Linked DNA regions of Homo sapiens. The protein of the gene in region 1 interacts with the protein of each later gene in a pairwise test. Each region holds a gene or a part of one and is shown in the gene's direction. Other genes may lie near its edges.

What was found.
Region 2: the proteins of MLF2 (region 1) and HSPB8 interact in binary tests that used the Homo sapiens proteins (3 or more experiments, as listed by UniProt).
Region 3: the proteins of MLF2 (region 1) and DNAJB6 interact in binary tests that used the Homo sapiens proteins (3 or more experiments, as listed by UniProt).
Region 4: the proteins of MLF2 (region 1) and BAG2 interact in binary tests that used the Homo sapiens proteins (3 or more experiments, as listed by UniProt).

The regions. Positions count from the first base shown.
Region 1 is NC_000012.12:6,750,142-6,758,480, reverse strand, and holds the start of MLF2 (myeloid leukemia factor 2), read left to right. Parts: upstream 1-5,339; 5' UTR 5,340-5,542; intron 5,543-5,564; exon of another isoform or gene 5,565-5,599; intron 5,600-6,118; 5' UTR 6,119-6,146; coding exon 6,147-6,196; intron 6,197-6,426; coding exon 6,427-6,556; intron 6,557-6,804; coding exon 6,805-6,840; intron 6,841-7,714; coding exon 7,715-7,768; intron 7,769-8,175; coding exon 8,176-8,304; intron 8,305-8,339.
Region 2 is NC_000012.12:119,188,096-119,195,646, forward strand, and holds the end of HSPB8 (heat shock protein beta-8), read left to right. Parts: intron 1-5,603; coding exon 5,604-5,763; 3' UTR 5,764-6,651; downstream 6,652-7,551. UniProt on the Homo sapiens protein: Involved in the chaperone-assisted selective autophagy (CASA), a crucial process for protein quality control, particularly in mechanical strained cells and tissues such as muscle. Displays temperature-dependent chaperone activity.
Region 3 is NC_000007.14:157,381,489-157,389,723, forward strand, and holds part of DNAJB6 (dnaJ homolog subfamily B member 6), read left to right. Parts: intron 1-757; coding exon 758-889; intron 890-3,378; coding exon 3,379-3,520; intron 3,521-4,052; coding exon 4,053-4,123; coding exon of another isoform or gene 4,124-4,158; exon of another isoform or gene 4,159-4,836; intron 4,837-8,235. UniProt on the Homo sapiens protein: Has a stimulatory effect on the ATPase activity of HSP70 in a dose-dependent and time-dependent manner and hence acts as a co-chaperone of HSP70. Plays an indispensable role in the organization of KRT8/KRT18 filaments.
Region 4 is NC_000006.12:57,181,798-57,190,032, forward strand, and holds the end of BAG2 (BAG family molecular chaperone regulator 2), read left to right. Parts: intron 1-234; coding exon 235-344; intron 345-1,980; coding exon 1,981-2,393; 3' UTR 2,394-8,036; downstream 8,037-8,235. UniProt on the Homo sapiens protein: Co-chaperone for HSP70 and HSC70 chaperone proteins. Acts as a nucleotide-exchange factor (NEF) promoting the release of ADP from the HSP70 and HSC70 proteins thereby triggering client/substrate protein release.

The DNA.
Region 1 (8,339 bases):
TCGCTCTGTTGCCCAGGCTGGAGTGCAGTGGTGTGATCTCGGCTCACTGCAAGCTCTGCCTCCCGGGTTCAAGCAATTTTCCTGCCTCAGCCTCCTGAGTAGCTGGGATTGCAGGTGCCCGCCACCACACCCAGCTAATTTTTTTATTTTTTTTATTTTTTAGTAGAGACAGGGTTTCACTGTGTTAGCCAGGATGGTCTCGATCTCCTGACCTCATGATCCACCTGCCTTGGCCTCCCAAAGTGCTGGGATTACAGGCGTGAGCCACCACGCCCAGCCTAATTTTTGTATTTTTTAGCAGAGACAGGGTTTCACCATGTTGGTCAGGCTGGTCTCGAACTCCTGGATTCAAGTGATCCACCCACCTCAGCCTCCCAAAGTGCTGGGATTACAGGCTTGAGCCACTGCACCTGGCCTGCTCTTGCTACTTCTGCCCAGAATGCTCTCATCCCAGCTATTTCTCTCACCTTGTTCAGGTCTCTGCTTAAATGTCACTTCATCAGTGAGGTCTTCCCTAGTCACCTACATCAAAAGCAACAACTGCCTGCCTCCCAGCTTGCCTGCCTGTTCTCCATCCCCATTCTACCTTGCTTTATTTTTCTATCATTACTGTATCTCCAGAACCATGAACAGTACTTGACACAGAGTAGGCATTCAGTACATATTTGGCTATATATATATATATTTATTTATTTATTTATTTATTTTTTTAAAGCTGAAAAGGTGACTTTTAAAAAATGCTCTCAAGTCACTTTTCTCTCTCACTGAGTTGGCATTCCCCCCTCTCTCTACCTGGGGCACCTTAGCGCTCCTTTTTATAGTTTATCTCCCTCCCCCAACACAAATGCACATCACATCCACACACACTCAGCCACACCCGCTCATGCCGCTCAGGCAAAAAACTCAGTCTCCCCTCATTCCCTCATCACTCCTCCACCCTCCCTCCACTCTAATGTCTCACAGCCCTGGGATTGCTCCAGAGGCATGACCTCACATCTGAAGAGACGACCCCTTTTCTGGCCCGGCTGTACCCTCTCAAGGACTTCATGACTTTGGCTCCATCAGATAGAACAGTGAATGCTGGAACTTTGTTTCTCTTCCTTGCCAACAATCCTTATCTGCCTTATGATTGAGCCTCACCCCTGGCAGGGCCTGCTCTCCCTTCTACATCTTACCTATGGGACACTGTTCACCACAGTTCACTGGACAGAAAGGAAAGAAAAGAGAAAAGAAAAGAGGAAAGGAAGGAAGGAAGAAAGAAAGGAAGGAAAGAAGGAAGGAAAAGAAAAAGGAAGGGAGGGAGGGCAGGCCAGGTGCAGTGGCTCATGCCTGTAATCCCAACACTTTGGGAGGCCAAGGCGGGCAGATCACCTGAAGTAGGGAGTTCGAGACCAGCCTGACCAACATGGAGAAATCCTGTCTCTACTAAAAATGCAAAATTAGTCAGGCGTGGTGGCACATGCCTGTAATCCCAGCTACTCCGGAGGCTGAGGCAGGAGAATCACTTGAACCCAAGCTGGGAGGCGGAGGTTGTGGTGCGCCGAGATCATGCCTTTGCACTGCAGCCTGGGCAACAAGAGCAAAACTCTGAAAAAAAAAAAAAGAGGAAGGAAGGAGAAGAAAAGAAAGAAAGAAAAAGAAAGAAAGAAAAAGAGGAGAGGAGAGGGAGGAAGGAAAAAGAGAGAGAGAGAGAAAGAAAGATAAAGAAAGAAAGGGCCGGGCACTGTGGCTCATGCCTGTAATCCCAGCACTTTGGGAGGCTGAGGCGGGCAGATCACGAGGTCAGGAGATCAAGACCATCCTGGCTAACACGGTGAAACCCTGTCTCTACTAAAAATATAAAAAAATTAGCCAGGTGTGCGGGCACCTGTAGTCCCAGCTACTCGGGAGGCTGAGGTAGGAGAATGGCGTGAACCCGGGAGGCGGAGCTTGCAGTGAGCCGAGATCGTGCCACTGCACTCCAGCCTGGGCGACAGAGTGAGACTCCGTCTCAAAAAAAAAAAAAAAAAAAAGAGGGAGGGAGAGAGGGAAAAGACAAGAGGGATGGAGGAAGGGAGAGAGGAAGAGAGTGAAGGAGAAGAGAGGAAAGGAAATGAAGGAGAGGGAGAGACCCGGAGAAGGAAGACAGACACAAACTCTGGTTACTTGCAAAATTACATCCCTTTAATTCCTGGAGTAGACAACTGCCTATATGGTATGTCTCCAAGAACTCTGAAAATGGGCTCTTGCATTTGCTCTTTCATCCTCACCTGTTCAAGAGGTTTTTTTTTTTTCTTTTTTTCTTTTTTAGAGACAGGGCCTTGCTCTGTCTCCCAGGCTGGAGTGCAGTGGTGTGATTATGGCTCAAGCAATCCTCCCACCGCAGCCTCCCAAGTAGCTGGGACTACAGGCACACACCACCACACCTGGCTAATTTTTTTTACTGAAGAGACAACGTCTCACTATGTTGCTCAGGCTGGTCTCCAACTCCAGGGCTCAAACGAGCCTCCTGCCTTGGCTTCCCAAAGTGTTGGAATTACAGGTGTGAGTCACTGTGCCTGGCCAACAATTTCCTTTTTTTTTTTTCTTTTTTTTATTGAGACGGAGCCTTGCTCTGTCGCCCAGGCTGGAGTGCAGTGGCAAGATCTCGGCTCATTGCAACCTCTGCTGCTGGGTTCAAGCGATTCTCATGCCTCAGCCTCCCAAGTAGCTGGGAGTACAGGCACGTGCCACTATGCCTGGCTAATTTTTTTGTATTTTTAGTAGAGACAGGGTTTTGCCATGTTGGCCAGGTTGGCCAGGCTAGTCTCGAACTCCTGACCACAAGTGATCCAACCACCTCGGCCTCCCAAAGTGCTGGGATTACAGGCGTGAGCTACCGCGCCTGGCCAGCAGATTCTTAAGTTTTGGAAGGAAGAAGAGAAAGGACTCTAGGCACCTAAAGGCGGTACGTAAAGGATAGCAGGTGGCTGAGCACAGTGGTTCATGTCTGTAATCCCAGCACTTTGGGAGGCCAAGTTTGGGCGAATCACTTGAGCTCAGGAGTTTGAGACCAGCCTGGGCAACATGATGAAACTCCCCATCTCTACAATTTAATTAAAAAAAAAACAAAAAAACGGATAACAGGTAACTAAAAAAGAAAAAGGTGGCTACAAGACTGTATGCCTTCAATTGGCAGAGACCGTGTCTTATATTTTGTATGTATGCTTAATACAATGTACCTAGGACAGTTCCAGGCCTCATTAAACATTTGCTTTTTATTTTTATTTTTATTTTTTTTGGAACAGAGTCTCGCTCCATCCCCCAGGCTGGAGTGCAATGGCGTGATCTCGGCTCACTGCAACCTCCACTTCCCAGGCTCAAGTGATTCTCCTGCCTCAGCCTACTTGTGGGATTACAGGTGCTTGCTACCATGCCCGGCTAATTTTCGTTTTTGTTGTAGTTGTTGTTTTGAGACGGAGTCTCACTGTCGCCCAGGCTGGAGTGCAGTGGCACAATCTTGGCTCACTGCAATCTCCATCTCCTGGGTTCAAGCGATTCTCCTGCCTCAGCTTCCTGAGTAGCTGGGATTACAGACATGTGCCACCACGCCCAGCTAATTTTTGTATTTTTAGTAGAGACTGGATTTCACTTTGTTGGTCAGGCTGGTCTCGAACTCCTGATCTTGTGATGTGCCCGCCTCAGCCTCCCAAAGTGTTGGGATTACAGGCGTGAGCCACTGCGCCAGGCCTTAAACATTTGTTGATTGGCTGGACAATAAAGAACTTGCTTTAGAAGGAGGAGAGGACAAAAGAAAAAAAATGGATAGGATCTCTTTAGTTAAGTTTCAGCCACAGAACCTTTACTGGGACAACTCTTGATCACATGTCAAACTGCTTTCATTTGGGGCAAGAGGATAAGGGGAAGTTGCATGGTGGGAAGTGCAGAGATCTGGAAGACAGAAGATTTTACTAAGTCTCTTCCCCCAGAAATAGCAATGAAAAACAAATTTACTTGTATTCTGTCTGTTTTCCTTTGACTTGCCAGTCTGTCAGCTTATATCTTAATTATCTATCTCTGCTCCCTGTCTCTATTATTGTTTTTTCCTCTTTAATAATGATCAAGTCCAAAGAAACGTGAGAAGCCCTGTTCCTAGCACCTTTTCCTGAGTCACCAGGGACCCCCTCTTTCTCCCCCAGGGAATTACTGGGAACAAGTCTTTCTCATTGGGTCAGACTCCACACAGCACTAATATGGCTAAAAGCCAGAGTAAAGAACCAGGGAAAGCTGGAGTTTGGATGAGTCTGGTTAAAGTCCATCCTAGACAGTCCAAATGCCCTGACCCCAAAGGGGAAGGCCCTTCTCTCCAGCAGAGCCAGATTTTATGCAAGACATTTAGTATGTCAAAGTATCAGTCTCTGGCCTTGGAGGCAGGTCTTCTGGGCCCCGTTTTAGCTCCTCCCCTGGGTGATCCAGGTTAACTGAGCTCTCCACTCCTTTGTTCCCCCAAACTTTAGACCTTTGACCTAAGAAAGCAACCAAGAAAGGTCAGTGCAGGACTGGGAGCTCTTGAGGACACAAGAATTAGAGTAAAAGGAAGGGGAGAGTGGCATTAAACTAATAGATTCAGAACTGTAGCCTTTCCCCAGTCCAACCCTTCACAGATGGGTAACGGGGGAGGGTCCAGGTCCCTCTCCAACGCGAGTTCTCAAGGGCCTCCGGTTCCAGCCTGGCCGAGGAGCGCCATCTGGCGGCCAACCCCCCAACCTGGATCCTCTGCCCCATCCGACTTTCTGAAGCCCGAACTAGATCTGGGCTGGAGAGTTTCACCTCCTCTGCGTCACTCCGGGGACTCCGCCCTGCCAGGAACGCTCCTCCTCAAGCGGGGACAGGCCCAAGCGCCTCCCCCGCAGGAAAACTGCCCATCCTCCCTCTAGGGTAGACTGCTTCTCCAGTAGAGTCGGCTTAAAGCTCCCCCCAGGGATCCGCCCCGCCTCGTCGCCCACAGAGCGCCCGCCTCTCCCCAAGGGGCATCTGCCCCTCGTCCTCCAGTTTCCCCTTGAGGAGGGAGAGAGAACGTGCTGCACTGCGCCCCCAGGTTCAACCTCCAACCCGGTCCCTCCCGAAGAATGGATTCCTCTTCTCCTTCTCCTCCCCTGCCTTATGGGAGCCTCTTCCAGTCCACAGAACCCAAATCGAGGTTACTAATGAGCTCCCCTTCTTCGTGCCCAGGGGACCCCTCTCGGCCTCAGGCTCTGCTCCCCTGAGCTTGGCCCATGGCCCCGGCGCCCCTGGGACTCGGCCCCAGCCATCTCACCACCCGCGCCAGGGGGCGGGGCTCCCACGGCCCGGCCCCGGGTGGGCGGGTCTATCGTGACGTCACTTCCGCCCGGGCCTGGCCGAGGTTCGGGCTCCGTTGGCCGAGGGGGCCGTACGGAGGTGGCAGCTGTGGGAGGAGGCGGCGTGGAAGGCCGAGGAGCTCAAGCCCGGACCAATCCCCACGTTCCGGGCCGCGACCCTGACCCTGCAGCGTACCGGGAAGCGAAACCGGCCGGATGGGCCGCTGAGCCCGAATCGGGCACTGGTGAGGCTCGGGCAGAGCTGGCAGCCCCGGACGGGAGCGGGCCCACGGGGCTGCAGGGTCTGGGAGCCCGGGATGCGGGGTGGGGAGAGGAGAGGCTCAGGCCTACCTCTCCTGCTCGCCTGGCGGGGAGGCGGGAGCTAGAGGAGTCGCAGACAGGCGCGGGGGGCTTAGTGAGGCCCGCCTGGGGGAGGCCTGAGTGTAAGGAGGGGGCGGGGTGACTGGGGTCATTAATGGGGCGGAGGACCTGCACTTGGCATTCTCATCTAGAACGGTGTCGTCGGCGGGAGGAGGGGAGAGTATGCTACCGGCCAGAGCTTTGGGAAGAGGATGGCTCTGAGTGGGGGAGGGAAAAACCGAGAGGGTTGGAAAAATTTTCCATGGCCCTAATTGAGAAAGAGGTTTGAAGAGCCCTTCCCTCCCTAGAGGGTTGTGTGGAACACCTGGAGTAGGGTCTCCCTGGAGTTTAGGGGGTCAGTTACAGGATTTGGAAAGGACAGTGCTCTGAGAGTCCCCACACTGAGTGGGTGTGCAAAACCCTGGCCACCTCCAAGTATCTGAGCTTCCATATCTTTCCAGTGTGGAGCCCCCTGGAGCTGAGATCAGGATGTTCCGCTTCATGAGGGACGTGGAGCCTGAGGATCCCATGTTCCTGATGTGAGTATTCCCTCCCCCTCAAGCTCTCCCACTCCAGGTCTCTGAGCAGTTCAGGCAGACATCGGGGTTCCCATTGCTAGGAATGGTTGGAACTGGCTGGATACCTAGCTCCTACCTAGCAGGAAGTAGGCATCGGTGCCACTGTTGCTCTGTGCGTATTTTTTTGCAGGGTGGTGGAGGGATTGACAGTTTGGCGCTTCTGCCATCCATACTATGTGCTCACTCCACAGGGATCCCTTTGCTATTCACCGTCAGCATATGAGCCGTATGTTGTCAGGTGGCTTTGGATATAGCCCCTTCCTCAGCATCACAGATGGCAACATGCCAGGGACCAGGCCTGCCAGCCGCCGGATGCAGCAGGTAATGATGCTGAGACACACCTGAGACCCAAAGAAAGGTTGGAGGTTAGTTAGGAAAGCACTTAATTTTCTTGCACTACAGCCAACTGAGCAAGTGAAATGCTCTAGGAGTTGGGGAAAGGGTCAGGAAAAAGGGCTTTGTGACTCCCTTTTGAGAGGATGGAAAAAAATTGAGGCCATGGGCCTGGTTTGGGATTGTAAAGAGATAGGATGTGGTCTCTAATTTCTGTTCCTCATGTGTTCCTGTAGGCTGGAGCTGTCTCCCCCTTTGGGATGCTGGGAATGGTGAGTCTTTATCTCCCTGTGTCCTTCCATCTCAGACACACTCTCTACCCTTAGATATTATTCCCAAATGTGCCTCTTAGGAATAGTTTCATGAGTAACCCCAGAATCTTCTCTTTTTATGGCATTCACAAAGCTCTGAGCCTGTTGGGTACTAGGAGCCCTGTGGGTTAAAGGTGTTAAACTCTTGTTGGGAGGCCGAGATGGGTGATCACTTGCAGTCAGAAGTTCGAGACCAGACTGGCCAACATGGTGAAACCCCGTCTCTACTAAAAATACCAAAAAAGCCAGGCATGGTGGCACACACCTGTAGTCCCAGCTACTCTTGAATCCGGGAGGTGGAGATTGCAGTGAGCCGAGACTGCGCCACTGCCCTCCAGCCTGGGCAACAGAGCCAGACTCCATCTCAAAAAAAAAAAAAAGAAAAGATGTTATTAACTGTTGTACTCCTAGAAGTTCATACGCATTAGGAAGATGTAATTGTCTAGCAAAATTTGTTCTTTTGAGGAGGGAAGTGCAGTTAAAGGGCCAACTAGAGATGATTTTTTGGTAGGTTTTAACAATTTCATGCCTTACCTCTTTAGAGTTTAGAATCCATTACTTTGGCTTGCTTCCTAAAGATGGGGGGAATATAGCAAGCAGGAGAAGGAAAATTGGATCACAGCAGTCACAGAGACTGAGGAAGGGGTCAGCAGTTCACAGGAGGAGAAATATGAGTATTCTGGTTATTTTAACAGAATGAGAAAGAGAACTTGCTAGATGTGAAGGAAGAAGAGAAAGGAAATGTGCAGCCATGTGGGTTGTGGGTTCCTAAACAGGATCAACTCTGAACACTGACTTTGCTTTCCTGACTCTGTTTTCCATCTCTTTCCTCCAGTCGGGTGGTTTCATGGACATGTTTGGGATGATGAATGACATGATTGGAAACATGGTGAGACTTGCCCCATACCCTTCCCCGGCCTTGCTCTCAGTGATGGCTGACAACACCTTGCATCCTCTAAGGCAAGAGGGAAACAGTATGCTAGTGAAGGGTAAAGTACTGGATAAAGTAATTGAACCAGAGAGCCTTGGGACCCTGTACCTGCTGTCATGCCTGCCTGAAGCAGCCGGCAGCAGCTCTCTTACGTAGCATACAATTAAGGCCCTGTCTCTTCAGGTCCTTCTTGCTCGTGGTTGGACTCAGAGGAATTTGGGAGGGTAATGATGAGGCCTGATGTTTTTTCAGTTCTTGCATTTTGTGAGAAAGATACAGGCTAGAACAGGCAGCTGAAGGGTGAAATCCCTTCACCAGGGGTGATGCCTCCCCATTCAGCCCTCCCCTACCTACCCTGTCCTCAGGAACACATGACAGCTGGAGGCAATTGCCAGACCTTCTCATCTTCCACTGTCATCTCCTACTCCAATACGGGTGATGGTGCCCCCAAGGTCTACCAAGAGACATCAGAGATGCGCTCGGCACCAGGCGGGGTGAGTTGGGGAGCCCTCCTGTCCCAGAGAAGGTA
Region 2 (7,551 bases), about 110 Mb from region 1:
ACCTATAGGGAGCAGAGTTGCACAGTGTGGTCACGATGGCTGCACTTAAACAACTGCCAGGTGCTTCATACATACCTTCTCCCTAATCAGCAATCAGCGTCACTCCACTATGTGCGTTTCTGGCCCCTAAACTCTCTCTCTCTCTCTCTCTCTTTTTTTTTTTTTTTTTGAGATGGAGTCTCACTCTGTTGCCCAGGCTGGAGTGCAGTGGCACGATGTCAGCTCACTGCAACCTCTGCCTCCTGGGTTCAAGCAATTCTCCGGCCTCAATCTCCCAAGTAGCTGGGATTACAGGTGCATGCCACCATGCCTGGCTAATTTTTGTATTTTTAGTAGAGACGGGGTTTCACCATGTTTGGCCAGCCTGGTCTTGATCTCCTGACTTCAAGTGATCTGCCCGCCTCTGCCTCCCAAAGTGCTGGGATTACAGGTGTGAGCCACTGCGCCTGGCCCCTAAACTCTTTTCCAAGCCATCGTTGCATTTAGCCTTTGCAGCAAAAGTGTGCATCGGAGAGGAGACATGACCCTCCTTGCAATACAGGGAAACTAAGTCTCCCACAGGTGAAAGGACATACCCAAGGTCTTTACAGCTAGAATTTAGAAGGGCCCAGAATAGATCCCTGACCTCTGAGTTCCATGCTCAGTCCTTGGGCAAGGAATGCTGTTTCCTCATCTGTGAAAGGGATGCTGATTCCAGCCTTGCAGAGTTCCTGGCTGAAAGTGACATAAGGTCATGGCCCAGCGTAGGTCCTCATAAGTGGGAGTTCATTATTACTATTGTTATTGTTGACTCTTAACTTTTCCATCAGCCTTTGCAAAGAAATTCTGTGTGTGGAGAGATCACACTAGCTGAATTCTGAGGCTTCTTCCAGCTTGGGATTCTACATTCCTGTCTCTTCCCCCACATGTCCGTCCCTGGCCCTCCCACAGCCTCTGCAGTTCTTGGAAGCCTGTGGACACTTCCTGATAAGGCAAACGCCAAACCATTTGTTCTTCGTGTTTGCTGGCTTGCCTGGCATCTCCGTGCCCCACACCTCTCCCTGGTTTAGCAAGCAGATTAAACATTGCTGAGGGAGAGGAAGGAAGGCAGGGGGTGGGGGGAAGCTGATGTCAAGGCTCAAATGAGGTCTCAGGGTGGAGTCACAAGCAGGGCATAGCTGTAAAAGGGACTGTGTAAGAAAGAAGTGAATTAATCATCTTAAAAGGGGTGTGTGTGTGTGTGTGTGTGTGTGTGTGTGTGTGTGTGTATTTCACATGCTCCAAGGCCTTAGGGGAGATAGCTTGCTGGAAGTAACCTGATGAGAAATGCCTGAAATTGCTCCAGGCTGGTGCTCAGCTGCTGAGCTGGGCTAGTTGTTAAAATATTCAGTGGTCCCCAACCTTTTTGGCACCAGGGACCAGTTTCGTAGAAGGCAATTTTTCCATGGACTGGGGAATGAAACTGTTCCACCTCAGATCATCGGGCATTAGATTCTCATAAGAAGCATGCAACCTAGATCCCTCGCATGCACAGTTCACAACAGGGTTCAAGCTCCTATGAGAATCTAATGCCACTGCTGATCTGACAGGAGGCGGAGCTCAGGCAGTAATGCTGGCTGAACTGCTGCTCACCTCCTGATGTGAAGCCTGGTTCCTAACAGGCCACAGATGGGTGCCGGTCCATGATCCGGGGGATGGGGACCCCTGAATATTGGCTAGCTATTGCCCTGAGCCCTCCCTAGCCAACCCCAGTCACTCTGATCTTGTCCCCAGGACCCTCTAAACCTCTCCACCTTCCAACAACTAAAGGGTCCCAGGACCCTCCTCCATCACTATGACATGCACCCATCCCTTCTGAATGGTCAGTGCCCAGCTGCACTAGTTGTTAAATATTTTGAATCTCAGCTCCGGGTGCAGGGAGTCCTGGCTCCATGAGAAAGTGAGTGGGTAACTTGGGGCAACTTGCTTAACTGCTCTGACCTTCCATTCCCACATCCCTGCATGGAGGGGTTGTGATGGGAGTGAGAGGATGTGTATAACGCATTAAGCATGGAATACAGACTCAGGGCTTGGTCCATGGGAATTAATATTATGAAAAGGCTTCACAAGGCTGGACTCACACTCCAGCAGCTGGGACTCCTGGGAGCTCCTGGCTCTGCCCAGACTCTAGACACCTAGGAGTCGAACTGGGGTCTGGGACACCTCTGGACCAATCTCAGGAGTCCTCGTTGCCTCCTCTCCCAGGGAAAACTCCAGTCATTAGAGGACAGGGAGATTCCTTCAGCCAGGCTGAGATCCTTGGAGATTTCCACCCAGGCAGGATGCTGCAGCTGTTTGCCTTAACCATGGCAAGGAAATTCATCTCAACACATCCATCTCTGTGTGAAAAGCCCCATTTGGACTGAATAAGGAGGAGAGGGAGAGGTCTTGGGTCTCAGCTTTCAAAGTCCATGATCTTCCTATTTGGTTAGGGGAAACCAAATTACAGTCATTTGCAATACCGTCATTCACATCCCATCTTCACTATTTTTTGCCTTATATGCTTACATTGCTGTACCATGATTTACTAAAGGTTTTTTTTTCTTTTAGATCATCTCATTTTTGATAAAGTTAAATTCTTATCACTGAAATGTTCACTGAGGAAAGCGATCATGAAATAAATCCAATGAAAGCAAACTGTGGTTAAATTCTAACTAGATAATATTGCCTGCCTAAGGGCCTCAGCTCTCTCATTGTTAAAAAGGGAAGGTAGCAAGTGATAGAGGCTAAAGGCGTTAAAGGCATGTTAGTACTTAGCAGAGACATTCCTTCAGATGTAAGTAGAAGCACTGAAAGAGAACTGAAGAGGAATTACTTTCCCACCAAATGGGTTTAAATACAAGTCACTTGGTTAGAGACCTTGGACTTGTCTATCTCTCTGAGTTTCAGTTTCCCCATAAGTAATATAAGAGCATTGTCATGGACAATCAGGAAGATCCTTTGGGGCCCTGATACTCTGTGGTTCAATGATCCTGCAATTTGTATGATACTCCATCTTGCTGTCAAGATGCCAACATGTAAGGTCAAAGACTGCAACGTAATTCTCACTCCACCCTAAGAGGTGGGTACTATTATTGCCCCCTTTTTTTCTGCAAAGAAACAGGTTCAAAGAGTCAAGATCACCAGCCCCATGTTGTGTGGTCAGGAAGAGTCAGAATTTGAATGCACGTCAGCCTGCCTGCAAAACCCATGCTCTAGGCCATAGCCACCCTGTCACACTGTACCTGGTGTGCACTGGGTTGGTGTGCACATGGTTAAACAGTCAGCCCATCCCCAGCATTGGGAGGGAGGTCTAAACTTTTGACTTTGTCTCCGCTTCAAAAGCTTGACTTGGCAGCTTTCTAGTTCCCTCTTTTTCTTCCAAATGGGCTTCCCAGAAGCAGCCTTGTTCATCTCCATGGTTCCAATCTGGCAAGGAATCTCCTGGGTAGATACGGCTCATGTGGCTACAGGTTGTTGTACCCACAAAAAAAGAAAGAAAGAAAGAAAAAAAAAAAACTCCCCAGCCCCTCCAGAAGGAGTCCTGCCTATGATCAGGAATGGGCTTACCTCATGCCTTGGTTCTTTCATCAAGACCCTCGTATTTACAATAGGCAGAGCCAGCAGGGATCAGTGGAAAGATTTTGATTGAACTGCCGGTCCTTCCTGCCATAGTCCTTCTTTCAAATGTCTGGTGCTGGGGGAGGCAGGAGAGCATCATGGTCAGATACTCTGAGTTTGGAGACCAGGATTCCAATTCCATTTCCTATCTGCCATTTGCCAGCTGAGCAACCTTGGGCAAAGCAGTTCACTTCTCTGAGTCTCAATTTCCTCATCTGTAAGATGGGGATAGCAATGGAATCTGCCTGGTGGGATTATTGTTAACACCAAAATGATATGATTCAGCTAAAGTACCTGGCACATAGAAAGTACTCAGAAGGTCATGGATTTCATGGTTAAAAAAAATAATGGCACCCCAATGAGATCACTAATATGTCCTCACAGTTTTAATAGTTTGTTGAAGAAACCAAATTCTCAATAGTCTCATTCACCCAAAGCAATCCAAAAATCATAAAAATACCTTATTAGAAGTTGGACCAGATTTAGGTTTAGAAATTCCATCTTCGATGCTTTCTCACTTGTTGAGCTTGTCATTTGATTTCCCCCAAGTCTCTGTTTAGTGATCTGTAGAATGGGCATATTAATTCTTACCTCTTAATCATCCTCTTACAATACTCCAACCAAGTATTGTCTATAACTGAGTTTTAAGAACAAGATAATTGGCTGGGCTCGGTGGCTCACGCCTGTTATCTCAGCACTTTGGGAGGCTGAGGTGGGTGGATCACAAGGTCAGGAGTTCGAGACCAGCCTGGCCAACATGGTGAAACCCCATCTCTACTAAAAATACAAAAATTAGCCAGGCATGGTGGTGGGTGTCTGTAATCCACACTACTCAGGAGGCTGAGGCAGGAGAATTGCTTGAACCTTGGGAGGCGGAACTTGCAGTGAACCAAGATCGCGCCACTGAACTCCAGCCTAGGTGACAGAGTGAGACTCTGTCCCAAAAAAATAAAAGGAAGAACAAGATAATAATGATCTGCTAAGTGATTGTATTAGTCTGTTTTCACACTGCTGATAAAGACATACCTGAGACTACATAATTGATATATATATGAAAAAAAGAGTTTTAATGGACTCACAGTTCCACATGGCTGGGGAGGCCTCACAATCATGGCAAAAGGTGAAAGGCACGTCTTACATGGCAGCAGACAAGAGAGAAAATGAGAACCAAGCAAAAAATCTTATAAAACCGTCAGATCTCGTGAGACTTATTCCCTACCATGAGAACAGTATGGAGGAAACTGCCCCCTACCCATGATTCAATTATCTCCCATCAGGCCTCTCCCACAACGTATGGGAATTATGGGAGCTACAATTCAATATGAGATTTAGGTGGACACAGCCAAACCACATCAGAGATACTTAGGGTATGAACAAAATCAAGGCTTATTTTGAATACCATCGAGTATGTTGCCATCTGAAATCTACATGTGGCCAGCTTGGCCCCTTTTATCCACCAAGGTACCTAGTGCTTGCATCACCATTAATGCATTTTGTAGTGAAGCACTCTCCAGCAAGCACATGTCAGATGAAAATGTGTTGCCTGTTATGATAACACCTTACTTGCGCTCTATAAAGGGATGGTAGTGGTGCCATTTCTGCTAGTAATTGTGGTCAGTAGTGGGTATTAAGGTGATGACTTCAACCTGGGACCAAATATGTGGGCCACAGCTCTCTTTTAAGTTAAGAACTACTGTTCAAACAGCATTTTACCATTTGCAAAGCATACTCAGACTCTGAAGTTCAAATACTCTACAAGTTCAGTATTATTATCCTCATTTTGCAGATGAGAAAACAAGCTCAGAGCAACTGAATAATCTTCCCAAGACCACACAGCTAGAAAGGGGTAGAGCCAGGATTCAAACCCAACATTGTATGTCCCCAAAGCCTAAGCTCTTATCAAAAATATTTCCTCTCAAGTGAATAAAAGAATGTTTAAGCAATATTAACAACAATAAATGAATAAAATCGTGTGTTTCTCCTAGGCTTCCTGCAGAGGTGGATCCTGTGACAGTATTTGCCTCACTTTCCCCAGAGGGTCTGCTGATCATCGAAGCTCCCCAGGTCCCTCCTTACTCAACATTTGGAGAGAGCAGTTTCAACAACGAGCTTCCCCAGGACAGCCAGGAAGTCACCTGTACCTGAGATGCCAGTACTGGCCCATCCTTGTTTTGTCCCCAACCCTAGGGCTTCTCTGATTCCAGGATACATTACTTTAGCTGAACTCAGATTTAGTGCAAGTAAAATGTTAGAGGGTGCGGGGGTGAGGACTGACCACAGATTCCCTGGATAGTGTAGTGGTAGATTTCTCCACAGGATAGCGCAATTGGCAAATCATGCTTGGTTGTGTTAGGCCAAAATACTAGTTTTGCTTTCTTTACCTTTTCTATCTTGATGAAAATGTTGCACATTCTATAGTTGCAAAACACATAAAAGGGGACTTAACATTTCACGTTGTATCTTACTTGCAGTGAATGCAAGGGTTACTTTTCTCTGGGGACCTCCCCCATCACCCAGGTTCCTACTCTGGGCTCCCGATTCCCATGGCTCCCAAACCATGCCGCATGGTTTGGTTAATGAAACCCAGTAGCTAACCCCACTGTGCTTCCACATGCCTGGCCTAAAATGGGTGATATACAGGTCTTATATCCCCATATGGAATTTATCCATCAACCACATAAAAACAAACAGTGCCTTCTGCCCTCTGCCCAGATGTGTCCAGCACGTTCTCAAAGTTTCCACATTAGCACTCCCTAAGGACGCTGGGAGCCTGTCAGTTTATGATCTGACCTAGGTCCCCCCTTTCTTCTGTCCCCTGTGTTTAAGTCGGGATTTTTACAGAGGGAGCTGTCTCCAGACAGCTCCATCAGGAACCAAGCAAAGGCCAGATAGCCTGACAGATAGGCTAGTGGTATTGTGTATATGGGCGGGACGTGTGTGTCATTATTATTTGAGTTATGCTGTTGTTTAGGGGTAAATAACAGTAAATAATTAATAATAATAATAATAATAATAAAGGAGCTGACGTTCTTAGCCTTGTGTGGTTCTTTTAATGAGGAACTAAATGTAATACCACCTAGATATACAACATCAGTTAGCAATGCTGTGGCTTAAAGTAATGTTGCGCGGAGCCGCGATGCCTAAAGGAGGGAGAAAGGGAGGCCACAAAGGCTGGGCGAGGCAGTATAGGAGCCCTGAGGAGATCGACGTACAGCTGCAGGCTGAGAAGCAGAAGGCCAGGGAAGAAGAGGAGCAAAAAGAAGGTGGAGATGGGGCTGCAGGTGACCCCAAAAAGGAGAAGAAATCTCTAGACTCAGATGAGAGTGAGGATGAAGAAGATGACTACCAGCAAAACCGCAAAGGCGTTGAAGGGCTCTTCAACATCGAGAACCCCAACCAGGTGGCACAGACAACCAAAAAGGTCACACAACTGTATCTGGATGGGCCAAAGGAGCTTTCGAGGAGAGAACGAGAAGAGATTGAGAAGCAGAAGGCAAAAGAGCGTTACATGAAAATGCACTTGGCCGGGAAGACAGAGCAAGCCAAGGCTGACCTGGCCCGCTGGCCATCATCCGGAAACAGCGGGAGGAGGCTGCCCGGAAGAAGGAAGAGGAAAGGAAAGCAAAAGATGATGCCACATTGTCAGGAAAACGAATGCAGTCGCTCTCCCTGTATAAGTAACCGCGACCCATGGGAGGAGATGCCGGGGACCTGGGCCGCGCTGCCAGGACCTCTGCTGTGTCTCGCCCACCCTGTGCCCTGGCGCCGCCGCAACAGCCCCTCGTGGCCAGGAGCCCCCCATGGCCTGGGGCCTCCTCTTCATTTTGGCACAGAAATTGTTTGGGGGATGTGGGGGGAGCTGGGGGAGGGGCAGTTGCTATCTTTGAGACAGAAAGATGAGGGACAGCATTTCACATGTAACCATTTGAATGT
Region 3 (8,235 bases), on another chromosome or scaffold:
AAAACGGTCAGTTCCGATCTTGATTTCCAGGAGCACTTTGTGTTTCCACTTGGCAGCGTGATGCTTCCTCATGTCGGTGATTTTCTGTTGAGACATCTTCAAGCATCATCTTACGTCTGCTTGTTAACATTTGTTCAGATTTGATTTCAGCTAATCCTTAAAAGTTTTTTGAGACATCAAACTTAGAATAAAAGGAATTTCCTTTGCCGAGATTCATCAGGTATTTACACTTAGCTTACATGGCCACACCATTCCTCGTGTGTGTGTGTGTGTGTGTGTGTGTGTGTGGGCGCGCGCATGTTAGGGTAATCCATTTTTCTGTTTGTTTCTGAATTGCTTTGGAGAAGGCAACTCAGACTCCAAGGAATACAACAGCTGCCGTGTGAAGCTTTTCTCACTTTTCCAGTGGTCGTAGCAGGAACAGCGTCTTGACCTCACATCAGTGACGTGAAAAGAGCTGAGTTTGAAGTGCATATTGGTCCTCCATAAAGAATGTGTGTATGTGCTGTTTTTTTAATTAAGTCTGGTAATTTATTTGATACAATGTATTGTAGTTTTAGTTGAATTAAACTAGTTAGTAAAACTGTTGGTGAGGTAGTGTTTCAGTTACTCTGTAGATAAGCTCTTTTGTTAAAACCTCTTAAGTTTTTTGTTCCTGAATATGTTACAAACATCTATTTTCTCTTACTGTAGCTATCACATGAGGAAAAAAACTTGAAAAAAAGACTTCATAGTGTGTGTTTATGTTTGATTTTAGAAGACCCTTTTGAGGACTTCTTTGGGAATCGAAGGGGTCCCCGAGGAAGCAGAAGCCGAGGGACGGGGTCGTTTTTCTCTGCGTTCAGTGGATTTCCGTCTTTTGGAAGTGGATTTTCTTCTTTTGATACAGGTATTAAATCCCTAGGTTTAATCTCTGTTATCTTAACAGCAGTTAGTACTTATAAAATCATAATACTCTTTTAGTTAGAGTGCTTTAAAATATGTGTATACCTTTCGTAGAATAGCATTGTGGATTTGCCAGCTTTTTTTGGTATACAGGTCTGCGCTTAACCTACATTTTCTCCTAATCTTCCTAAGAATGTCGTGCTTGGAAATCTTCTCCTCTTAATATAATAATCAAGGCCAGAATGTAATGAAATTCTTAGTTAAAAAGGGGCAACATATGTTCTGCATCAGTAGGTGGAAAGTAACGCAGTTGGAAAATCTCACTAACCTTCATGCTGTCTAACCTCCTTTGTAGTTAAAACAAAAGTGCACAAATAGCATCCTAGGAGCATCCCACTGGATGGAATCGAAGGCTGGGCCTTACCACTAGCCCAGGCCAGGCTCACTCACTAGTGAAGTGTCAGCCTCACGCACGTAGCTCTTCATAGTTCACCGATGGAAACAAGCTTGTAGACTGGAGTAACATGAATATGCATATATCATGATATGCCTGTGTGTTTAGCCTGAAGAATCCCACTTTTCTCTGAAGCTCATCCAGTTTCTCTTCACAAAGGAGCTTTTTTTTTTGTTGTGTTTTGTTTTTAAATTTAAAAAGAGTCTCACTTTAGTGAGTGCCACTCTTAGTGTAGTGGCACGGTCTCAGCTCACTGCAGCCTCCCGCCTCCTGGGTTGAAGTGATTCTTGTGCCTCAGCCTCCTGAGTAGCTGGGATCACAGGTGTGCACCAGCAGGCCCAGCTAATTTTTGTATTTTTAATGGAGACAGGGTTTTTGTCGTGTTGGCCAGGCTGGTGTTGAACTGACCTCGGGTGGATCCACCCGTCTTGGCCTCCCAAAGTGCTAGGATTACAGGCATGAGCCACCACTCCTGGCCTGGAGCTGCTGTTTTGATTCTCTCATTTTTATTTTTAAGCCTCCACGATAAGAATTGGGAGAGCTTGTTATATAGGGTTCCTTCTTCATCATGGTCAGAATTTTATTTTCTTTGAACATTGCGCTCATGCCATCTAGGTAAGTAGTGAATTCTGCTCGATTGGACCTCAGTTTTGATGTGCTTTCCCTCAACAGATCCTCTCATTTGATACCATGGAATATGCTGACCACAGGTTAAGAAAGCTAGTTAAAAATACCACGTAAATTGTCCTTTTTAAAAGTAATCAGTGGCTCCTGTATGTGTGTTTGTGTGTGTGTGTGTGTGTGTGTGTGTGTGTGGTGGGGGTGTAAGCCTTCTCCACTTCTGAGGTGCCTTACAAAGTATCACAAGAATAAATACTTAGCGAGGCTTAATTGAGACCAGTGCAGTAGCCACCAGCCACGTGTAGCTCCTGAGCCCTGGAGGCCTGGCTACTCCTAACGGAGATCAGCAGGAGTGTGAAATAGTCATTGGGTTTCAAAGATGGAACATGGGAAGCAGTGTAAAATACCGCAAATGATTTTGATTTTTTGTATTTCCAATTGAAATATTTTGGATATACTGTATTAAATAAAATACTAAAATTAATGTCACTAGTTTCTGCTTTTTAGTGAAATCATTAGAAAAGGTAAACTTAACATACCTGGTTCACATATTTCTTCAGGACACCACCAGCCCTAGACAGTATCTGCGCTTAGATGATTGAATCATGTTCAGAGGTATGCGTCATTTGTGTTAATGGGAGCATTTTGGAAACAGGACAAAAGCTCTAACCAGTAGACCAGCTTTAATATCGAAAAATAGGTTTGCTTTAGTGTGACTTGTGAAAGTTTTTAGTGTCCACACTGCGATAATATCCATAATGTATAATTGAGAATGGTGTTCATGAACTGTAGAACCATAGTTTTTTGAGACGAATACTTGTATTCTTTCTGCAATTATTTTAGTTTTTTAATAATTTAGATTCTTATCCCCTGTGGTCCTGTGGCAAAGAGGAGGGAAGCCGATTAGGTTTGCTGTTCTGTGGTGGTGAGGTCACTCTGTTCCTGTGGGGTAAGAGTGTCCATCACAGTCTGTGGAGTTTACAAGCCACGCCAAAGCAAACAGAGCTTGATACCGAGGCTGCTCTGCTGGTTGGAGCTTAATACTGGTCTCGGTTCCAGAATGTTCACATTAACACAACACGTGCTTCATGGTGCCAAGCAGACCACCCACAAGCAGGGGCTGTCTTTGGCATGTCAGAAAAGCTGCTTGGGTCCCGCGAAGCTCTGCATGAGGAGAGGGGGAGGGGAGAGGCTGCACTCTCGCGTTGCCCTAGAGTCCCCACTCAGGGATCTGAGAGACAGTCTTTCCCCCTGGGCACCCCAGCACTTCAGCTGAGGCCTTGATAGTTGCGTCGTTTATTACTCCTCGGTTCTATGCCTTAACATTAAATATTCTGCTACTGAACTTTCAAACTCTTGTCTTTGCATTACTAGTTGACATATTTCTTTAAGCATTTTTCTTTTCTGTTTTCCTGTAGGATTTACTTCATTTGGGTCACTAGGTCACGGGGGCCTCACTTCATTCTCTTCCACGTCATTTGGTGGTAGTGGCATGGGCAACTTCAAATCGATATCAACTTCAACTAAAATGGTTAATGGCAGAAAAATCACTACAAAGAGGTACTGTGGTATTCTGCATTTTATATTTTTAGTAAGCAGGCGTAACGTTTCACTGGTGCCATGTTGCACGTCTCCCAGAGTGTGAAGTAGAGGTTGTTGTATGCTAAATCTGGCGCCATGAAAATCTTTTGCTCTCCAAATTCATTAATTAAAGCCTTTTCTCTTAAATTTTACTTAACTGTTGAATTATTAGAGGGAATCTTTAATGTAATACAGTGTAATAAGTTTCTGCAGCATTGTTAAAATGGTAAAATGGAAAATCATTAATAGTAAAGCCTTTACTGTTTTATAGCCTCTGCATGTATTTAGCATCCGCCTGTACGGTATTTGAGACACAATTTATTTTGTCAGGTTAATTCTATTTTAGGAAAGGAAGATGTGTTGTTGACAGGTTGGCTTCAGCCATGTTTTTACAGCCTGAAAATTACTTATATTCATGGTGTATTTCAGTAATGTCCTTAAACAACTTAGTTACCCTCACACATGCATTTTCTTTACCAGAAAGGTTTTTAAATGAATTTTTTTCCTACAGAATTGTCGAGAACGGTCAAGAAAGAGTAGAAGTTGAAGAAGATGGCCAGTTAAAGTCCTTAACAATAAATGGTAAGGAGCAGCTGCTGCGCTTGGATAACAAGTAATTCAACGCACGCACTTAACAGAAATGTTAAACTATAACAAGCACCATTTGAGGATTAACAGGAACATTTTTTTGAAGATTTCAAACGAACTCGACTTTCAGTATAATTGTACCTAAAGTATTTATAAACAGCTCATCGGAGCCTCTATTTGTCATAGACTTTTGAGTTGATTGTTGGGACCACATAATAGGACCATTTTTTTTTTGTCTTTAAAATTGTTGTAAATCTCTGTATGCACTTTGCTTTTTTATTAAACGTACTCCAAGGTGAGTCTTGACTCTTTAGTGTAGGACAAGATTGTACACTAACACCAGCATGGACCTGCTTTTCATTGTGTCTGAAATGTGAGCCACGTAGTGTCGGCCTGCTGTGAAGTTAACATTGCCAGGACGATTCTTCTACAGAAATAATTTCAATTTTTTTCAGTATTTAGTAGTGAAAGATATTAATACATTAATGGTAATACATTTCTGGTTTAATATAAATTAAGGATGTTTTCTAGTTGTGCATGAATGCTGGCAACTTAGTAAGTTTTGACAATTGTTTAAATATGTAATGTTAAGCTTAGGTTTAAAAAAGTAAAGCTGGTAAACTGGGTCTTTGTCATTTGCTTTAAAAAAAAAAAAAAAGAAAATAAATGCGAATGTGTTGGTGCATTCTTCCTGAGTGGGATCTGGAGCTTTTTTGTGTCTGTGTATGATTTGTGCCTGGGCTTCTAGTGTCACTTTAATAGCGTTTCGTGCTGTTCATTCAGGTGGATGCCGCACCTCAGTTACATGTAGACATTTTCTTCAGTATATTTGAAGTATATGAAGATTTTCATATTGTAAGTTGTGATTTAGCAATTGATCAAACATTTAATTATGGTAACATTTCTACAGGAGAGGGAAGAAACCATTGTATAATTTTTCACTCTTAAAGTATGTTCTAGTTTGATGTAAGATCACTTACGGATCCGGGCGCGGTAGCTCAACGCCTGTAATCCCAGCACTTTGGGAGGCTGAGGCGGGTGGATCACCTGAGGTCAGGAGTTTGAGACCAGCCTGACCAAGATGGTGAAACCCCTGTCTCTACTAAAAATAGAAAAATTAGCTGGGTGTGGTGGCAGGCGCCTGTAATCCCAGCTACTCTGGAGGCTGAGGCAGAAGAATTGCTTGAACCCGGGAGGTGGACGTTGCAGTGAGCTGAGATCGTGCCATTGCACTCCAGCCTGGGAGACAGAGCAAGCCTTCATCTCAAAAAAAAAAAAAAATCACTTTGGGACAGTCAAGGTCTTTTGTTTCTCAGTTTGTAATATCTTTCATGATTACCATTGGTAACTAGAATCCTAGCTGTAGTGAATATTGAACTAGACTTTGACTGAATTTGAAACTGTTTTGGAACTAAACAGCGTGAAAACCGCTAGAAGGACAGGCGGTTCCCTGACAAACAGCGTAGCGTGTTCCATCCGTGCTGGCTTTGCAGGAGGGCATAGAGATTGCTCGGGATACGCCAGAGCCCTTAAGCAACCTCACGTGCTGTTACTGAAAATAAGTAAAAAATATTTTAAGGAATTTCATAGGAGCTCAAAAAAGCATAGCAACAGTTAAGTAATTGGGGACAGTTGAAGTACAAGAAGAACAACGAGTGATGTGCTTGTCTGTTGTGTCGGAAATAACCCAGCACGCGGCACTTCCTGTCTCTGGATAAGGTAGGTATGCAGCCATGGCACGTGCGGGAAAGCGGGACAGCGCCCTCTAGTGTTGGAAATCCCACTCACAACTAGCATTGTGCGATCATAGAGCGCGCTTTTGTTTATGCCATCAGGACGGGTGGTTTTTTGTTACTAAATAAATTCAAGTAGATACTTGGACTAAGGCGTTTTATATTTTTCATTAGTGGGTGGGATGAGTCAGTGCAGCAGCCTTGAGACATCCAGGGATGTCCAGAAATACCAGGAAAATGAAAAGTCTTTACCTGTAATTCTTAAACTAGGAAGCATTTTGCTATAGCGTTGGTACTACACAATTTTAGAACACATTTGGTTGTTCTAGACTTTGTGGAGTGTTTCATGCAACTCTAGCTGTGAACAGTTTACTCAACATGGTGTTACAGGTAAAATATGTTTGACTCCTAAGGAATCTTTCTTGTGAAAATTTTTTTTTGAGGAGGAGGGAGCATTCATTTGTACTTGGGAAAACTACTGTTTTGTTTGTTTGTTTGTTTGTTTGTTTTTTTGAGACGGAGTCTTGCTCTGTCATCCAGGCTGGAGTGCAGTGGTGTGATCTTGGCTCATTGTAACCTCTGCCTCCCGGGTTCAAGCAGTTCTCCTGCCTCAGCCTCCTGAGTAGCTGGGATTACAGGCACCCACCACCACACTCAGCTAATTTTTGTATTTTTAGTAGAGATGGGATTTCACCATGTTGTCAGGGCTGGTCTGGAACTCTTGACTTCAAGTGATCCATCCACCTTGGCCTCCCAAAGTGCTGGGATTACAGGCGTGAGCCACTGCGCCTGGCTGAGAAAATTACTTTTATTCTGTTCTTCCATTGATAGAAGTGTAATTTTATTAAGTTACTAATAGAATAGAAAGCCTATTTGTTGCTGTCAAATCTTACACCTTTCATTTTTAAACCCCGTTAAGTTTATTCCTAGAGAATTCAGTCTAAGGGTGCATGAGAGTACCTTTGAAAAGTTAGGAAATGGCTGTGAGCATTGATACCATCACTCAAGTAAGTGATGGCTTGGAAGAATAATAGCATTTGATTTAAATTACAGTTTTTGGTAAATTCAACAGTCTCTTTACTTGCTGTAGTGTTGAGCGCCTCTGAAAATAGGAAGCTGAACGCTCCTTAACGGCACGTATCTGGTTGTGCACAGCCCCATGTGGTCCCATCCATTCTGGGGTGTGCTGTCTGCTGTGTTTGGTTTGTGCTCAACTTCCCTGTTTGAGATTCTTTTTTAAGTTTTATTTTTAAAGTCTTTAATTTTTAAAAATACTTCAATAGCTTTTGGGGGGGGGGTAAGTGGTTTTTGGTGACGTAGATGCATTATATAGTGAATTCTGAGATGTTAGTGCTGCTGTCACCCAAGCAGTGTATGTTGTACCCAAAGTGTAGTTTTTTAATCCCTGTTTGGCATCCTTTTGTCTGGAGGGCTCAATAATCTGTATTTTTGTCATCTCCTGTTTTCCTATTCCTTGTAGCTCCCCACCCCGTTGGTTTGATTTGAGTGATGGATTATTCCTTATATTTCTATCCTTTATAAAATTTAAGCTTTTTAGATTCCAAAGATTCCAGGCTTGATTTTGGAAACTCGGGGTTTTAAATAATCTGAAAGATGTCAATCAATAGTGGCATCATGGGCGACTTGTCATTCTTCCTCTTGGAAGTCCTTCAATGAGTAGATTTTAGAAGTGGGTAGAGTTAGTGTCACCATTTGCTAAACTTACCTGTGCACCTAGTGTGCTGAAGTAAATGTTCCTTACAATGTGGAAACGCTTGAGGAACACTGTGGGGTGATTGTCTTTCCAATCAATTTTAATTTCTGTTTATTAATTAGAGCTTGAAAAATGCCTGCTTATCCTGTCTTGATTACCTTCTAGATATCATTTCTTTCCGGGAATACTGATCTTGTTTTAAGCACTATAGAATGAATTAGAAACATTTTTATTTGCAGAGGATTCAACGGTAATAAATAATTGGCATATTATCTCTGTTATTGATTGGCAGCAGTGTTGAAATTTAGCCATTAGCATGTTCAGTGACAGAATGGAGGCAGATGTTGTTATTTCGGAGGTTTTCAAGCACAAAATTATGTTTAGTTGATTTGAATACTTGGTTTCGTGGGGTCTGGAGGGGACTGAATTACATAACCCACTGCTGTTTGTATTTTTAAAAACGAAGGCATGAGATCTTACCCTTTGGGGTCTTGATTTCAAAGCCTTTGGATATGGTATTCCTAGCTGTTCTAGGGACGTGGGGGGAGCTAGATGTAGGCCTTGGTACTAAAGTGTGACCAATGGTTGAAATGGGGTAGACCGAAGTCTGTCATTTGGCTACGTTATTTCGTCTTCCTGTTTAAAAAGGTGAAAAGAGG
Region 4 (8,235 bases), on another chromosome or scaffold:
AAAACAAATAGTATTAATTAGATAAACACGAAAGAATGATTGCCTTATGAGCTGGGAGGAAAATGGGAGAAAGGCAAGTGTATAGAAAAATGAAAGAATTTTAAAGCAGAAATGAAGAATTTTTGAAAAGTTTGGTGATCTTTAAACTTGATTTGGGTTGAATGAGAGATAAAGAAAATTAATAGGAAGAACATCCTGCATACAATAACCGTTTTGTTTTCCCAATTTCTATAGGGTTGAAGCTTTGAGAGAAGCAGCAACTGCTGTTGAGCAAGAGAAAGAAATCCTTCTGGAAATGATCCACAGTATCCAAAATAGCCAGGACATGAGGCAGATCAGTGACGGTGAGAGCCATCTCCACAGAAGGGGCTCATCTTTTACACTCCTTTAAAGAGTTTATGATAAGTGTGGGTCAATTTTTGCTTGACTTTTGGTATGCGTACACCAGGCCACAGCATTTAATGTGAGCCACAGAGAGCAGCTGCAGCTGTCAGTTCATTACAGCAGCCACTTACTCAGAGATTTCTTCCAGCATGCTCTCTACCCCAAGCCCCTGGCTAGGAGAGATAGGAAAAAGCCTGCAAGCTCAGAAAAGCTGGCCCCAAGCAGTAAGGCCATGTGTTTTATCCCAGGTTCACAGTCCTAACTTCAGTTCCTCACAAGTTACTGGACTGCAAGAGATTAAAAAAGCAGAGGAAGAGGGTGAGAGAGTGGAAGCAGAGAAGTAGAGACCAAAAAAAAAAAAAAAAAAAAGATGAATTGAGGTACAACATAAAGAGAAGGGACAAAATGCAGAGAAAATGAGGAAACTTGTAGGACCAATAAAAGGCATGAATGTAAAAATGTGCTGTCATTTTCTTTTTTCTTTTTTTGAGATGGAGTTTTACTCGTCACCCAGGCTGGAGTGCAATGGCGCGATCTTGGCTCACTGCAACCTCTGCCTCCTGGGTTGAAGCGATTCTCCTGCCTCAGCCTCCCGAGTAGCTGGGATTACAGGCACGTGCCACCACGCCTGGCTAATTTTTATATTTTTAGTAAAGACAGGGTTTCACCATGTTGGCCAAGCTGGTCTCAAACTCCTGACCTCAGGTGATCCGCCTGCCTCAGCCTCCCAAAGTGCTGGGATTACAGGCATGTGACATCTGCCTAACCTGTGCTGTCATTTTCATGTGAAGAACATGAAATAGGAATAGGTCACTTCTGATTTTCTTTTATTGGCACTGGACTTCCTACTTGGGCTCCTTTGGTGCCACACAGGCCACATGGTACTGGGCCAAGTGGCTGGTGAGGTAAGTAAGCAACCTAAATCCAGATCAAAACTGTTACACATCTATAGGTAGGCCATGATCTAGTCTCTACGCTATCCTGCCCAAAGATCAATGAATTAGGAAGTTACAGAAGCAGGAGCTTGCTGACTTTCTCATATAAATAATGAAATGTTGATAGAGCTCCTCGTGCTGGCCAAGACTTTAGACCACTGTCCTGCTTCTATCTGGAGAAGGATGAAGTCAGTGCCTAGTATTGACGACAGAAGACAGCTTATCTTCTATCGTGGCTACATTTTCTCAACCAAAATTTGGGGCATTGTATTCTGATAAATGCACATGTCGTTCTGGAGAGATCTGGGACATCTGATCTCTGGAGCTCTACCCAGCATAAACCCTATATGTGCTTACTGCTCACAGTGTTAAGACTTGATCTCCATCCCAGTTACAAATGCATACCTACCCAAACTTTTGCAGACATGCCAATTTGAGAAGTCATCTGGTATCCCATATATGCAGATTGTCAGGAAGTGGTATTCTACAACCTCTTTCTGTAATCTAATACATTTCATCAGTTAATCTTACATGCTATAGTTTCAGCTTTTATCTCTAAAAAAATTTCATGGCAGAGGTAAAGAAAATAATAAATTTAGTCACAAACAAATGCCTTAATGTTTTTGACACAGATAAGTTTACATCTCATATTGATTTTTAGGAGAAAGAGAAGAATTAAATCTGACTGCAAACCGTTTGATGGGAAGAACTCTCACCGTTGAAGTGTCAGTAGAAACAATTAGAAACCCCCAGCAGCAAGAATCCCTAAAGCATGCCACAAGGATTATTGATGAGGTGGTCAATAAGTTTCTGGATGATTTGGGAAATGCCAAGAGTCATTTAATGTCGCTCTACAGTGCATGTTCATCTGAGGTGCCACATGGGCCAGTTGATCAGAAGTTTCAATCCATAGTAATTGGCTGTGCTCTTGAAGATCAGAAGAAAATTAAGAGAAGATTAGAGACTCTGCTTAGAAATATTGAAAACTCTGACAAGGCCATCAAGCTATTAGAGCATTCTAAAGGAGCTGGTTCCAAAACTCTGCAACAAAATGCTGAAAGCAGATTCAATTAGTCTTCAAACCTAAGAGCATTTACACAATACACAAGGTGTAAAAATGATAAAATACTATTTTAATTGATAACTAGTTCTTTGTTAGGTATAACCACTTAGTTGACACTGATAGTTGTTTCAGATGAGGAAAATATTCCATCAAGTATCTTCAGTTTTGTGAATAACAAAACTAGCAATATTTTAATTATCTATCTAGAGATTTTTTAGATTGAATTCTTGTCTTGTACTAGGATCTAGCATATTTCACTATTCTGTGGATGAATACATAGTTTGTGGGGAAAACAAACGTTCAGCTAGGGGCAAAAAGCATGACTGCTTTTTCCTGTCTGGCATGGAATCACGCAGTCACCTTGGGCATTTAGTTTACTAGAAATTCTTTACCTTAAGCAGCACACACATTTACTACACACACAGTGTTAACAAAGCACTGTGCTTAGAGGGTAAAAAGGAATCACAAAACAAGAATCTTTCCAAAGTTGTCTCATTCAGCAATGTTAAGGCATCTGTATCAAATTATTTTGGATGTAAAGATTCCTGTGTCTCATAATATGAATGTATTTTTTGATATACAAGAAACTGACATAAAATGTGAGAAAACCACCTATAATTTACCACTGTGAACAATTATATATCTATCTGCTTCATCTTTTCTCAAATGCATCAATTCTCTAAAATTCCTATATTGTAACTTGCCTTTTTTTAAAAAAGTTAGATGCTGATATAAAGTCTGCTTAATTGTCAACTTAATGAGCTCTATTTTGTGTAGTTATATCTTTATCCATTCCTCTTTTATGGACATTTAGGTTGTTTCCAACTTGTTGCTATTACTGCAACATATTTTTGTACACAGGACTTTTTCCTTCTTTCATTTTTGTTTTTCTCTGTATAAAGGCCCAGCAGTGAATTATATTGGGTCAAAGGATATAGACGTTTTCATGGCCTCACACATATTAAACTTTTTTTGTATAAAGGTTACAGCAATTTATACTTTTTTCAGTAATTAAAATATAGCTATTTCACTGAAATATTTCCAGCACTGAGCATTAATACCTAGTTTGCATTTTGTTTACTAAAAAGGTTGACCAGTGTGTTGATTCTTCTTTTATCTGATAAAGTGTGAAGCAACTAGAGAACACTTATTTGTTCAAAGTAACTAGTCCTATTGATATACAAAAACCACAACAACTTCCCTGGATACTATTTTGAAATGAACACATCAATTTTTATTTGAATGTAGGTATTCTTCACACTGAAAAACCAAATCAAGATCCAAACTGACTTTATGTATGTATATATCTCTCAATGCAAGCAATATCAAACTTCATTTTCTCTACAAAAATGCCAAGTTAGTCTCTTTATAAAAAGCAGTTACAATCTGAAGACATTCATGTTACTTCCTTTGCCAGCTCCAACTCTGCCTTATTTAAATCTTTGCATTTCATGGGAAACATTAATTCTATCTATGGCAGAGCCACTTGGTTTGTTAGCAGACTGATTTGCTGTCATCAGACTGTGAGATGATTTTTTGTGTGCATCATTTTTTTCTTGACCAGCTTTTTGAAAATTAAGAAATGGATAGTCATGTTTTCTTCAGGTTCTCAAGTATTGTCAGCATCCGTAAATCCCTTCCACTCTGGGAAATACTACTGCTCCCTGCTTCCCATGGCTTCCACATCAGTCCAGGACTTTTTCTACACAAATTATTCTGGCTCTGCCTCCTTGACCTTGGTATTCTTAGCATTATTTTTCCCATTTTTTTGCAATGGAGTTTTTAATGGAGGTCATTGATTTCTGATCACAGACTTGAAGAGCTATGATCCACATTTCCAAGCTGCTTGGGGTCCCTGGTTTACAGTGTCTCCAGCATTCTGTACCTAGAGCCACATCTAAAGGGCAGGGAATCTCCAGTGTGGTTTTTTGTTTTTTTGTTTTTTGTTTTGGAGTCTTGCTCTGTCACCCAGGCTGTCTGACAAGTAGAAGACATATCCACTGTAGCAAGGAACACTATGGAGTATATGAGTTAGGGAAAAGAGACTGTGAAGGGAAGAGAACAAACATTTTGTAGACGTTTGGTGTTGAATATATGCTATGGAGGCAGTTTCTATAGTTTCATTTACTTCATGAGGTTTCATTTTTTCTTTTCTGAGATGGAGTCTTGCTCTGTTGCCCAGGCTGGAGTGCAGTGGTGTGATCTCAGCTCACTGCAACCTCCACCTCCCGGGTTCAAGCGATTCTCCTGCCTCAGCCTCCCTAGTAGTTGGGACTACAGGCGCCCACCACCACGCCCGGCTAAATTTTTGTATTTTTAGTAGACATGGGGTTTCACCATATTGGCCAGGCTGGTCTCAAACTCCTGACCTTGTGATCTGCCTGCCTTGGCCTCCCAAAGTACAGGGATTACAGGCATGAGCCACCACGCTTGGCCAATGGGTTGGTTCTTAACATGTATTTTTATTTATAAGAATGGGAGTATAATTTATTTTCAAATGATGATGAATCTCCTGAGTCACATTTTTACCCTCATTTAAACTATTGTCTTTTATATAGACTATAAGTGGATATAGAGTATGTTTTGCTGTATCTCAATTCTCTACCATTCCTAGCATATAATACATAATTTTAGGGTAGCCCTCCTGCCATTCCTTGTTAGCACTACTTTCAATAAAATGAGAGTATTAAATATTGGCAGAGTATCTGAAATATGAAATAATTTTAGGTTGCTTTGATCTTTAAAGAAGTTGCATTATATATTTTACTATTTAGATCCACACTGTTGATACAATCATACATATCACACAAAATTTTAGCTTTGAAATGCATTTATTTTCTGATTATTGGAATTCATCCTTCATGAAATTTTTAGAGTAGTGTTTTAAATTAAGCTCCAGAGTGTAACTGCAACCAAATAGCAATACATACAAGTGGTTTTCCATTCAAATTTACAAAAGCATTATTTATTAGTAATAAAAATATAGAAGGAATTCAGTTTTCCTTTTATCCCCAATTTTTTGCTTTTAAAAGACCATTTACTAACATCCTACTGTAGATATTTCGAGAGACAGATGAAAATAATAATAATAAAGATTATTATAGCCAAATCATCCAGTTAGCCAGGAGTTTGATGACTGGATATTTCAGAGTCTACTGCGGGTTTTAAATATTTTGTTAGCAAATGAATTCATCTGTATGATGAGAGACTTACATGTTTTATAGCTGAAAACCTAAGGAGTGACAATAGTACATGTGACATTCTTAACAGTTAAAAACTGAGTAAGTCCTGTTCATTAGGTAGGTGCCATGTGGAACAAGCTTTCACCTCATCAATGCATTTTGTTTTCAGAGAAACAGACTAATGATAGATTAATGGGAACATTTTATCAGGTTAGCAGTAACTATTTCAAAGGTTTTGAAAAGTATGCTAATAATTAACAATATCTTATATTAAAAGGGTCCAACACTAAGTTGGGACATTAGGTCCTAAGGCCAACTCCCTATTCTAAGGTCTTCAGAAAAGGTCCAGTTTCCTAAAACTCACAGGTCCAAGGAGTACATGTTATTTATTGAGAGTTCCTTCTGAGCACTGCACTGCCAACTTCTAAAGCAACCACCTAGAACTTCACTCCATAATGAGGAAAAAGTTTTCATCCTCTTTTTGGTAGTTTTAGCTTTATTTTGAAAAAGTAACGTGTGCTATCAACTTTGGGCAGATACAAAGGAAATCATTTAACCTGGTTTTATTTAACTATATTGCCTTATATGGGTCATTCTATATACTATTTAATTCATAGACAGAGACTGGAAAAGGAAAAGGAAACCTGAGGAACTCTGAAATATGGCAGTTATTCCACAGCGATATGTCTACGCAAAAGATTAGCCGTAATGTTAAAAAAGTAGATTAGAGCACAAATGCACAATCACCTGGAATCTTGGAAAAGTTTTTCTTTAGTATACATGGTTTCATAAAATTAAAGTTATTTAAGAGAATGAAGGGTCTTGGAAAAAAAATGTCAATTTTTGAAGGCTTTAAGAATTGATTAAATTGAGAAATTAACATGGCTGACTTTCAGGCCTACTTAATTATTTTAAATGACTAATTATGGTTAGGTTTAAAATACAGCAGTGCAAATTAAAAATTCAAATATGTAACAAAGCTCTCTCTTCAGTTCTTATTTAAAAAAAGATAAAACTAGGTACATAAAATTATATTACAGGAACTGTAACTATCCTCAGAGATTACTTTTTTTAAATATAGAAAGGTAACACGCTTTTAGCCACACAGCTAACATGAAAAAGAACTAACTAGAACACATATAACAAGTGATTTTTCTGCCAATAAAGACAAAAGACTATTTGTTGCAAAGTATTATTTTGTGCAAAAATTAAAGAGGAGAGTAGAGAGTAGAAAATTGAAGAGAGTAGAAAAGATGACTCATTAGCAGTATCCACTGTTTGTTAGGAACTGAATTTTGCCCCCAAAACCTATGTCACTATCAGCAATGGGAGTGGTGACAACTGGTGACATAAAAATAAGCATTTTACATTACTGTGAAATAGATAATGCCAGATCATTTCAATATAATGAAAAGCAAAAATTTACTTTTTAATTTTTTTTATTTTTCCATCTAAAATGGCAAAGAGAACATTTACTTTTGATCACTTAACAAGGACACACCCAGGAAATTTGATTTTCTCAACATTAGGAGGATGAGGGGAGTACAGATGGAAAAACAAAAGATAAAACACAAAAGGAGTACATAAAACATTGTTTAGTACAAATAATGAAAAATGACTTCATGACATTTTCCAATAAAAGTTATTTTTACAGATTTTGCAATGCTGTAAAAACCAGGTATATTGAAAGGGGTTATTTATAGGTTAAAAATAAAGCCATTGATGAGTGATAATCAGTTTTAACAGAGTTCACGCAATTATCTTAGCTGGAAAGCTACTGTCCCAAGTGACAAAATTTATGTCCTGACACATGATTACATATTAAATCATTTTGTAAAAGAAATGATTCTGTATGTGGGACTGACAGCTCTTGAGAAAGTGCTATACAAACAAGGTTATAGAAATGTTGAAGTGATTGATAATCTTAAAATACCATACAAAAATGTGTAAACAAAAGGATGGTTTAGAGTTGCAGGGCATTATAAAATATGTAATTTTAGTTAAGACTAATAATAATATTTTTGTGCACTTTAAAAATGGTTAGTGTAATCTTGTAAGTTCAAAGCTGGGTTCTCAGTGAGCAGCAAAAGGTGTTAGATGCATCACCACACTTCACAGGACCTCCTGAATGACTGCAGATGTGCTGTGTACCTTCTTAAGGGGCTTTGGCTGACCTTATGAGAGCAGGAGCTCACCATGCTTATGGGTGACTATATCAAAAAGATCTGCAATAAGGCTCACCTGGGAGATGCTCTAGCATTCAAATTCCTATACTCCTCTTTTATCTACGCTGTCAGATGAAAACTGCTTACTGCTTTTAAAAGATATAATAAACAATATAAATTCTGATAGTAAAGCACTATAAAAATTAGGTATGATATTTTTGGCACAAAGCACTTTTTAAACCCAAGCTCATTTTGCAAAATATATGTCTAGAGTTTATCATTTGAAAATAAAAACATATACACAATATGTAAATGGTTTTATAAGTGAATTAATTAGAATGTACATTTTCTTAAATACTGCACATACCTTCAGCTTACTCCAGTACCAGACATCTGCATGCACACCCCACATTCTACATTACACAGATATTGCACAAGTTTCAATGCCAAAATACTAATGCAGTCTGGCAAGATTTAGGGTTTACCTTTCAGTATTATTTTGTGAA